Linked DNA regions of Homo sapiens. The protein of the gene in region 2 purifies or fractionates together with the protein of the main gene of each other region. This does not show direct contact. Each region holds a gene or a part of one and is shown on either strand. Other genes may lie near its edges. The genes, in order: HIP1R and GLS2.

Region 1 (3,808 bases), about 66 Mb from region 2:
CTGAACCCCCAGCTCCTCAACAGTGCCTGGCATGCAAATGACTTTCATGGCAGGAGGGAGGCCCCAGGAATGCAGTGTGACGGGGCATGCCTTGGGCACATGGCATGGTCTCCTGTGCGCCTGGGCCTCAGTGCTGCCTGCTCCCCGCGCTGGCGGCAGGGGACAGGATCCGTGGCAGCAGGGCCCTCCCGGGCAGGGTGCCGGCTGGCTCTGGGAACACAGCCCCGTTGTGTCTAGGATGGGCAGATGTGTGCACCAGGCTCAGAGCGCCACACAAGGAGGCACAGTGCTCGCACAGTGGGAGTCTGTGGCTGCTCCGTGGGCCTCGCCTCTGACCAGGCAGTAGCAGCTAAGCCCTGTCCCGGGAGAAGCCCGCCAGGTCCCAGTGATGTCCCACCTACTCCCGTCTGCTGCTGACCCTCCCTTGCGGAAGTGGCTCCAGGGTTCTGAGGGCCGCAGCAGCAGGCACTCGGGCTCACTCTGTGGTGAGACCCACACGGTGTCCTTGACGCAGCTCCGCTCTGAGGCTTACAGTCCCGAGGCAGGTCCAACTGCCAGCAATACTTGGTTCTGGGTCCTGAGGTTCTCAACATGCTGTCCTCACAGCTGCCGAGTGGGGTGAACGTAGTTCTCCCCATTTTGAAGGTGGGGAAACTGCAGCGTGCCATGGGAGGTAGAGGGCTGCCCAGGCCTGTCCCTGGGTTCTCTAGCCTGCATTTGTGCCCCATGTGGCCCCTCGGGCAGAACAACCCCAGCAGCTCTGACACAGGCCAGAGGCTGGCTGGTCAGCTGCCAGAGACACCCCTTCAGGGCAGCGCAGCCTTTGAGGAGTGGAAGGGATTGATTATGGACCTCAGCTCAGGGTGGAAAAACCCAGTGCTAGAGAAAGGAAGATCATAAGGACACATGTGACCGCCCCGGGGTCTGTCCGCTACTCAGCACCCACAGCTCCCATCCAGCTCCCAAGAGGCAGGGGCCTCACACACAGCCTGGCAGGGCAGTTTCCACACAGCTGTGAGTGGCTGTGGGACCAGGGCTCTGCAGGGGATGCAGTGATAATGTGCAGCATGAGAGCATGAGGAGGAGGATGCTGTTCTTCCCACTGCTGGGCACAACAGGGAGGGGTGTCTGGCTGGGTCAGGGGAGGTCTCTGGAGGAAGCAGGACAGAAGTGATAATGGAGGGGGACCAGGCACAGTGGCGCACGCCTATAATCCCAGCACTTTGGGAGGCTGAGGTGGGAGATCACTTGAGCCCAGGAGTTCAAGGCCAGCCTAGCAAGACCCCATCTCTACCAAAAATAATTTAAAACTTAGCCGGGTGTAGTGGTGCACGGCTGTAGTCCCCTGCTACTTAGAAGGCTGAGAATGGCTTGGGTCCAGGAGTTCCAGGCTGCAGTGAGCCATGATAGCACCACTGCACTGCAGCCTGGGTAACAGAGTGAGAACCTGCCTCTAAAAAGTAAAAATAATAGGCCAGGTGTGGTGGCTCATGCCTGTAATCCCAGCACTTTGGGAGACCGAGGCAGGTGGATCACTTGAGGTCAGGAGTTTGAGACCAGCCTGGCCAACATGGCGAAACTCCCACTAAAAATACAAAAATTAGCCGGGCATGGTGGTGTGTGCCTGTAATCCCAGTTACTCAGGAAGCTGAGGCAGAGAATCGCTTGAACCTGGGAGGCTGCAGTGACCAAGATCATGCCACTGCACTCCAGCCTGGGCAACAGAGCTAAACTCCATCTCAAACAAAACAAAACAATAATAGAGAGTTCCACAGCGCCGTGAGACACCTTGCAGAAGGGAGTTGGAGGGTCCGCAGAGACAGCAGAGAGGGGCAGAAGCAGAGTGAGGTCAGCTCCTGCCTGGTTCCACAGACCCTGCAGCTTTTCGGGTCTCGAAAAATCCTCGGAGTCCACACCCACGCCCCAGGGGCCACCTGCTCACAACTCTCTGAGCCTGCTCTTATCCTGCCCAGTGCTGGCAGCAGGAGGGGCCTGACCTTTAAGGACAGAGAGTGGGGACAAAGCTCAGGGGCACCCAGGGGCCCAGGGGGCAGGTGAGGCTCTGCAGATACACTCAGGATAGCTGGCATCGCCAAGTGTGTAAGAACATACTCTATGCCATAAGGCCAGCAGACAGGTCTCAATAACCTATTAATAAATTCAATTTTATTGAGCTCAGCCTTGTACTGGGCCCCCGAGCAGACAGCATTGTTCCAGTGTTGCCTCATTAATGTTCACAAGGAACCTCGGAGCAGGTGGGCAAGGGAGGACATTGAGGCTGCAGGTTAACCACCTGTCCAAGGTCATAAATAACAAAAAGATGTGGGCCAGACATGGACCAGAGATGGAGATGGAGCCCCTCAGGCCCCTCCCAGGCGGCCCTGGGCTGCATGGCCTTCACAGTTCAGGGTGCGGGCTAGGCCTGGGTGTGGGAGAAGTGTGTCAGCATAGACATCCTTATCGTCCCACCACAGGAGCCCCACTCCCCAAGGGCCTGCTAACATGCCTCCAAATTGCGAGTGGGCTCCGGATCAGGATTTGTTCAAATCTCAAGTTAACGAAGGCCTTGGGGCTGGCAGAGCCAAGGGCCCTTCCCACTACCCCCATCCCTTGGGGCGAGGGCATCTGCCTCTGGGCTGCGGCCTTCAGCTCAGTCCAGTGGCCAGGGGGAGCCCAAGCCCTCAGGATACACCTGCCCTGCTTCCAGGAACAATCAGGCCAGACAGAGCCCGCTGACTCGTGAGCAGCCCAGAGCTGCACTGGTCCCTGGACTGAGACTCATGGGGCACACCCCAGCGAGCATCTCAGTGAGTGCTGCCTCAGAAGAGGGGAGATCAGGGTGAGGCAGGGGACGCTCCCGAGAGGCTGCTGGCCCAGGCCTGATGTGGAGTCCAGATGGAAACAGACCGCAGGAATGGGCACTGTCAGCAAAGCCAGGCAACTGAGCTGGGAGGCTCCAGGCAGCGGCTGCCCCACACGCCAACCCCGCGGCACCCTGTGGCCCAGGAGGCTCCGGAGTTGTCTGTCCACCGATCATACTCTGTCCCCACCTCCAACCCCCGAATACAGGGACATCTTCCTTCCTGCTGTATCTCTAGGCCCAAACCAACATCTGGCTGTCAGCAAATCCCCACTGGGCAAATGGAAGGGTGAACACTCGAAGGACAAGAGCTCTTTCAAAGACAAGTACTGGACGACTTCAGGGCACTGAGTCTCTCCTTCTCCAGCTAATAATTTATCCACTAGAGCTGCAGAGTAAAAGTAATTATAAAACAATTTCTATTTTTAAAATCAACGCTGAAATGAATCAGACGTAAGCCTCCCTGTGCTGTATTATCGTGGCACCTAACAGCAGCACTTGGCAGGGACAAGAACGTTCTTCAAAGAGCTGGGGCACACGGACGGACGCTGGCAGAGCGGTAGGTTATTTTGCTTTAACATTTCCAAAGAGTTGGTTGAAGGACAGAGAGATCTCATTCAAATGCGTCTGTCCCCTCAAAGGCCATTGACAGAGCAAACACAGGGTTTCTGTAGCTGAGGAGGCCGGGATATGGCCACACGCAAAGCAGCGAGGCGGACAGCTGGGTCAGCTCCAGCAGACAGGAAGTCAGGGGCAACTGCTCCGCTCCATTTAACCTGTATCTCCCCTCACTCTCACCCAGGCCTGCTTGGTCCTGGCCACTCCGTCATTTCAGCGTTTAGGAAAGCTCCCGAGGGGAGCATGAGAGCCCAGGTTCCCCAGGACACTGGTTACAATGTTGCCGCCTGACCCACTGCCACCTCCGCCCCAGGCTTTGTGGGTGACACC
Region 2 (3,808 bases):
TAGCAGAGCCAGAAACTCACGTGGAAGGCAAACTGGCCAGAGAAGTCATACATGCCGCAGGAATGCATGAGGCTGAGGGTGTTGCGCACTGCTTCAGCACTCAGCACACTCTCGCCTGTGATGGGGCAGATCCCACCGTTGGCGAGGGTGGCTGCCATGACACTGCCTGATTCACAAGTGACCTCCACAGAACACAGCTATGAAAACAAAGAATAGGTGAAGATGTGACGTGAACCTGCACATGGGACCCTCGGGTGTAGGGAAAGGGCAAGGGCAAGGACAGTCTGTCCTGTTCCCTCGGCCCTGAGCAGTGTTTTCTTACCTGGAAGTAGAGATCAAGGGCAGCCATCATGTCCACCCCCTTAGGAAAGCACTGCAAGGAAGAGAGGGGAGAGCATTTCTCTTCAGGACATCAGCCCTTTCACACTGTCAGGGTCTCAGCTGAAGCCCCCAACCCCTACTGCCCTTCCACTAGCAGCAGAATTCCCAGGGACTTTCTCTTCCGGCCTCTTCTGGTTACCTTCTTTTCCTTGAGATAATAGCCGATGGCATAATTCCGATCCCCTGTTTCCTTCTCTGACTGGAATCTGAAGCAAACACCCAATTTAGTACTTGAAGTTGGAGGAGTGGGTGTTGGGAGAAGGGGAAAAATTACCTTCCCTGGAGAGACAGAACTACATCACACCACAAACTAAATGAACCCCTTTATAACTTCTCACAGTAATATTAGAGGAAATTTCTGAACCTGAGCAAACACTCAGCATAGTTTTGTTATAAAGTAAACCCAAACCAAACACCCCAAACTGTCTAGTCATCTAGGAAAACTGGTGAAGTTTTTGGCTTTGAAAGTCTTGGCAAGAAAGGGCTTAGGCACAAACCATCACACTGCCTCTCTCATTATGTACTAATTAGAAATGGAACAAATTATTTTACAAGATAAACAAATGTTTATGAAGGGACTCAGAGGAAGCTGGAGGGCCAAAGTTCCCCTGGGATTTCTTCCTCCTAAGATTCTCTCTCCCCCATTCCTCTTGTCCCCATCCTAAGTACACACACATACACCACAATGCTTTCAGTCAGTCCTCTGAGTAGGGACTTACGTGGCATTGCTGAAACCCATGTATTCATTCCCAGCCATTTTGTTGAGATACTGCAACACCTGGAAGAGAAAAAGGGACATTGAGGCTCCACTTGGTTAAGAAGCTCTATTAATACCTCACAGGTTGACTAGCCCTTCTGAACTCAGGTCTTGTCAAGAGGCTTTCCTCTCTGAGGCCAGCAGATTTCCACATTTCTGGAAATAAGGCTTCTAGTATGGGCTGGTGCACCTGGTAGTGGGGTTAGAGAGCCACTGGGGCAGCTGGAGAGGACAGCATGCCATGGCGAAATGCAGCCAGGGGCTAAGTAGCAAGGGAACTTACAAAATCAAACTTCTCTGCTTTGTTACAGTCCATCTGCAGAGAAAGAGAGAGATGTCAGCATTCTAAGTGTAGGAGGATGACAGAGGGAAGGGTCAGAAGGATCTAGTGGAGTTCTAGTGTTAGTCTGGTCCTGCTGCTGCAAATGTGTTCAATTTTATAATGGCCCTTTTTTTATCCTTCTGAAAACACCGCACTTCCATTGGCTCCTCTCTTTCTCTTTCTTTTTTTTGAGACAGTCTTGCTTTGTCACCCTTGTCACCCAGGCTGGAGTGCAGTGGCACGATCATGGCTCACTGCAGCTTTGACCTCCCAGGCTCAAGCGATCCTCCCACTTCAGCCTCCAAGTAGCTCGGATTACAGGCATGAGCCAGCTTGCTGGGCCATCCCACTTCCATTCTCAATCCAAACCCTCATCCCTGACTCCCACGTTCATTTTCCTGACTCGAATCCTGTCTCCTAGCCCCACCCTATCCCTGATCTCCATCCCCATTCCTTACACCCCATGCTGGAGCTTTACTCCATCCCATTGGCCAGCATGATGGTTCATGCCTGTAATCTCAGCAATTTGGGGGGCTGAGGCAGGAGGATCGCTTGAGACCAGGGGTTTGAGACCAGCCTAGGCAACATAGGAGAGACCCTGCCTCAATTTTTTTTTTTTTTTTTTTTTGAGATGGAGTCTTGCTCTGTCGCCCAGGCTGGAGTGCAGTGGCAGGATCTCGGCTCAACTGCAAGCTCCGCCTCCCGGGTTCATACCATTCTCCTGCCTTAGCCTCCCGAGCAGCTGGGACCACAGGTGCCCACCACCAAGCCTGGCTAATTTTTTGTATTTTTAGTAGAGACGGGGTTTCACCGTGCTAGCCAGGATGGTCTCGATCTCCTGACCTCGTGATTTGCCCACCTCGGCCTCCCAAAGTGTTGGGATTACAGGCGTGAGCCACCGCGCCTGGCCTCTATATTTTTTAAAAAAGGTCCTACTTAGATGGGAATGGGATGAGGCAGGTCCCAGATACAGGTTTGTAGATGGAGCCATCACAGAACAAGGGGAGAGACTCAGCCTCTTTTCCTCACCCAGACTCATTGCTTACTCATGTGTCAACTACAGAGTCAATACCACAGGGACTCTGATACCTGAGTCCCTGAGGGGAGGATTCCTAACACCACCTTCCCCAGGAGGGGCTGTGATTGGCTCCAGGGTGTTGCTGCCCAGCTGCTCCCAGGTTCTTGCTCAAGCCCTGGGAGACCTACAGCTGATGGGCTAGTCTGACACCCTGTTCAAGGCCAACTCACAGTTCCAGGTGACGTGAATAACTGCCCTGGCCTGGCCATTCACCCTTGCCTGCAGGTGTCCCACACCCAGAAGTGGCCAATCAGTGCCCAATAGTGCTGTCCTCCCCTTGTCTCTGGCATTTGGCCCTTGGTCCTAGGCAGGGGTCAGGACCTGCTCACTTCTCTAAGGGTCAGAAAGCTCTAGGCTCTAGACTCATGGGTGGGGGCAGGGAACAGTACTGAGTGGGGATGACGGAGGTGGTGCAGTCTCTTATACTGACATTGTCAGCATAACATGTGGGTCCCTGCTGTGCCTCATGTGCCTTCTGGGGACCCTCAAAGGAATCAGAGCCCCACCAGTCTCCCTGGAGAGCTGAACAAATATGAGGGATACAGGAACACAGGAGCTTAGAGGATAATACCTATCAGAAGGTTAAGGTGGCACTGACCTTGATCAGGGAGCTGACAACAATGGCACCAGCATTGACCATGGGGTTATGGGGGATTCCTGGGGAAATACAAACCACCAAGAGTCTTAGCCACTGAACAAAGCCTCCCTGACAGCCCGCTCACTTTGTGGGTTAGACAAGAAAGACTGCTAGGGAGAAAGGCATGACAGGGCTAATCAGGAAGGGCAGAGAAACAAAAAAGGCTGGGAGATGGGGTGGGGATAAGGAGAAGGGGACAGCTGTAAGTACGGTCTGAGCCTTGGTAGTGCTCACCTTCCTCATTGAGGGAGAGCTTGTTGTAGCGCAGGCCACTTGGCTCTTTGCCCACAAACTTGTGCACGTAGTCAGTGCCTAGGGTGCTTATGGAGATGGCATAGGTGAGGGGCTTCACACAGGACTGCAGGCAGAAGGGGATCTTTGTGTGGCCCACAGAGTGCCTGGAGGCAGACAGATGCCATGAAAGGGGTTGGCCTGTGTTCGGCACCTGTGCCCTGCCTCCCCTTCCTCTTGCCCAGCATCTCACCGTTGACCATCCACAGTGCACAGGGAGACACCCCACAGGTCTGGGTTTGACTTGGCCAGCTGAGGGATGTAGGCTGCCACCTGGACATGAGTGGGTAGAGAAAAGGGAGATGGATGTGGAGAAGAGGAACAGAGTTGAGGTTGAGGGTC

The links.
Region 1: the proteins of GLS2 (region 2) and HIP1R purify together in Homo sapiens (affinity purification with mass spectrometry; one large-scale study listed by BioGRID and IntAct). This does not show direct contact.

Annotation. Positions count from the first base shown.
Region 1 is NC_000012.12:122,841,803-122,845,610, reverse strand, and holds part of HIP1R (huntingtin-interacting protein 1-related protein), read right to left. Parts: intron 1-3,808. UniProt on the Homo sapiens protein: Component of clathrin-coated pits and vesicles, that may link the endocytic machinery to the actin cytoskeleton. Binds 3-phosphoinositides (via ENTH domain).
Region 2 is NC_000012.12:56,474,524-56,478,331, forward strand, and holds part of GLS2 (glutaminase liver isoform, mitochondrial isoform 1 precursor), read right to left. Parts: exon of another isoform or gene 3,740-3,808; coding exon 3,660-3,739; exon of another isoform or gene 3,574-3,659; coding exon 3,410-3,573; exon of another isoform or gene 3,196-3,409; coding exon 3,137-3,195; exon of another isoform or gene 1,455-3,136; coding exon 1,422-1,454; exon of another isoform or gene 1,160-1,421; coding exon 1,101-1,159; exon of another isoform or gene 661-1,100; coding exon of another isoform or gene 588-660; coding exon 521-587; exon of another isoform or gene 374-520; coding exon 323-373; exon of another isoform or gene 198-322; coding exon 21-197; exon of another isoform or gene 1-20.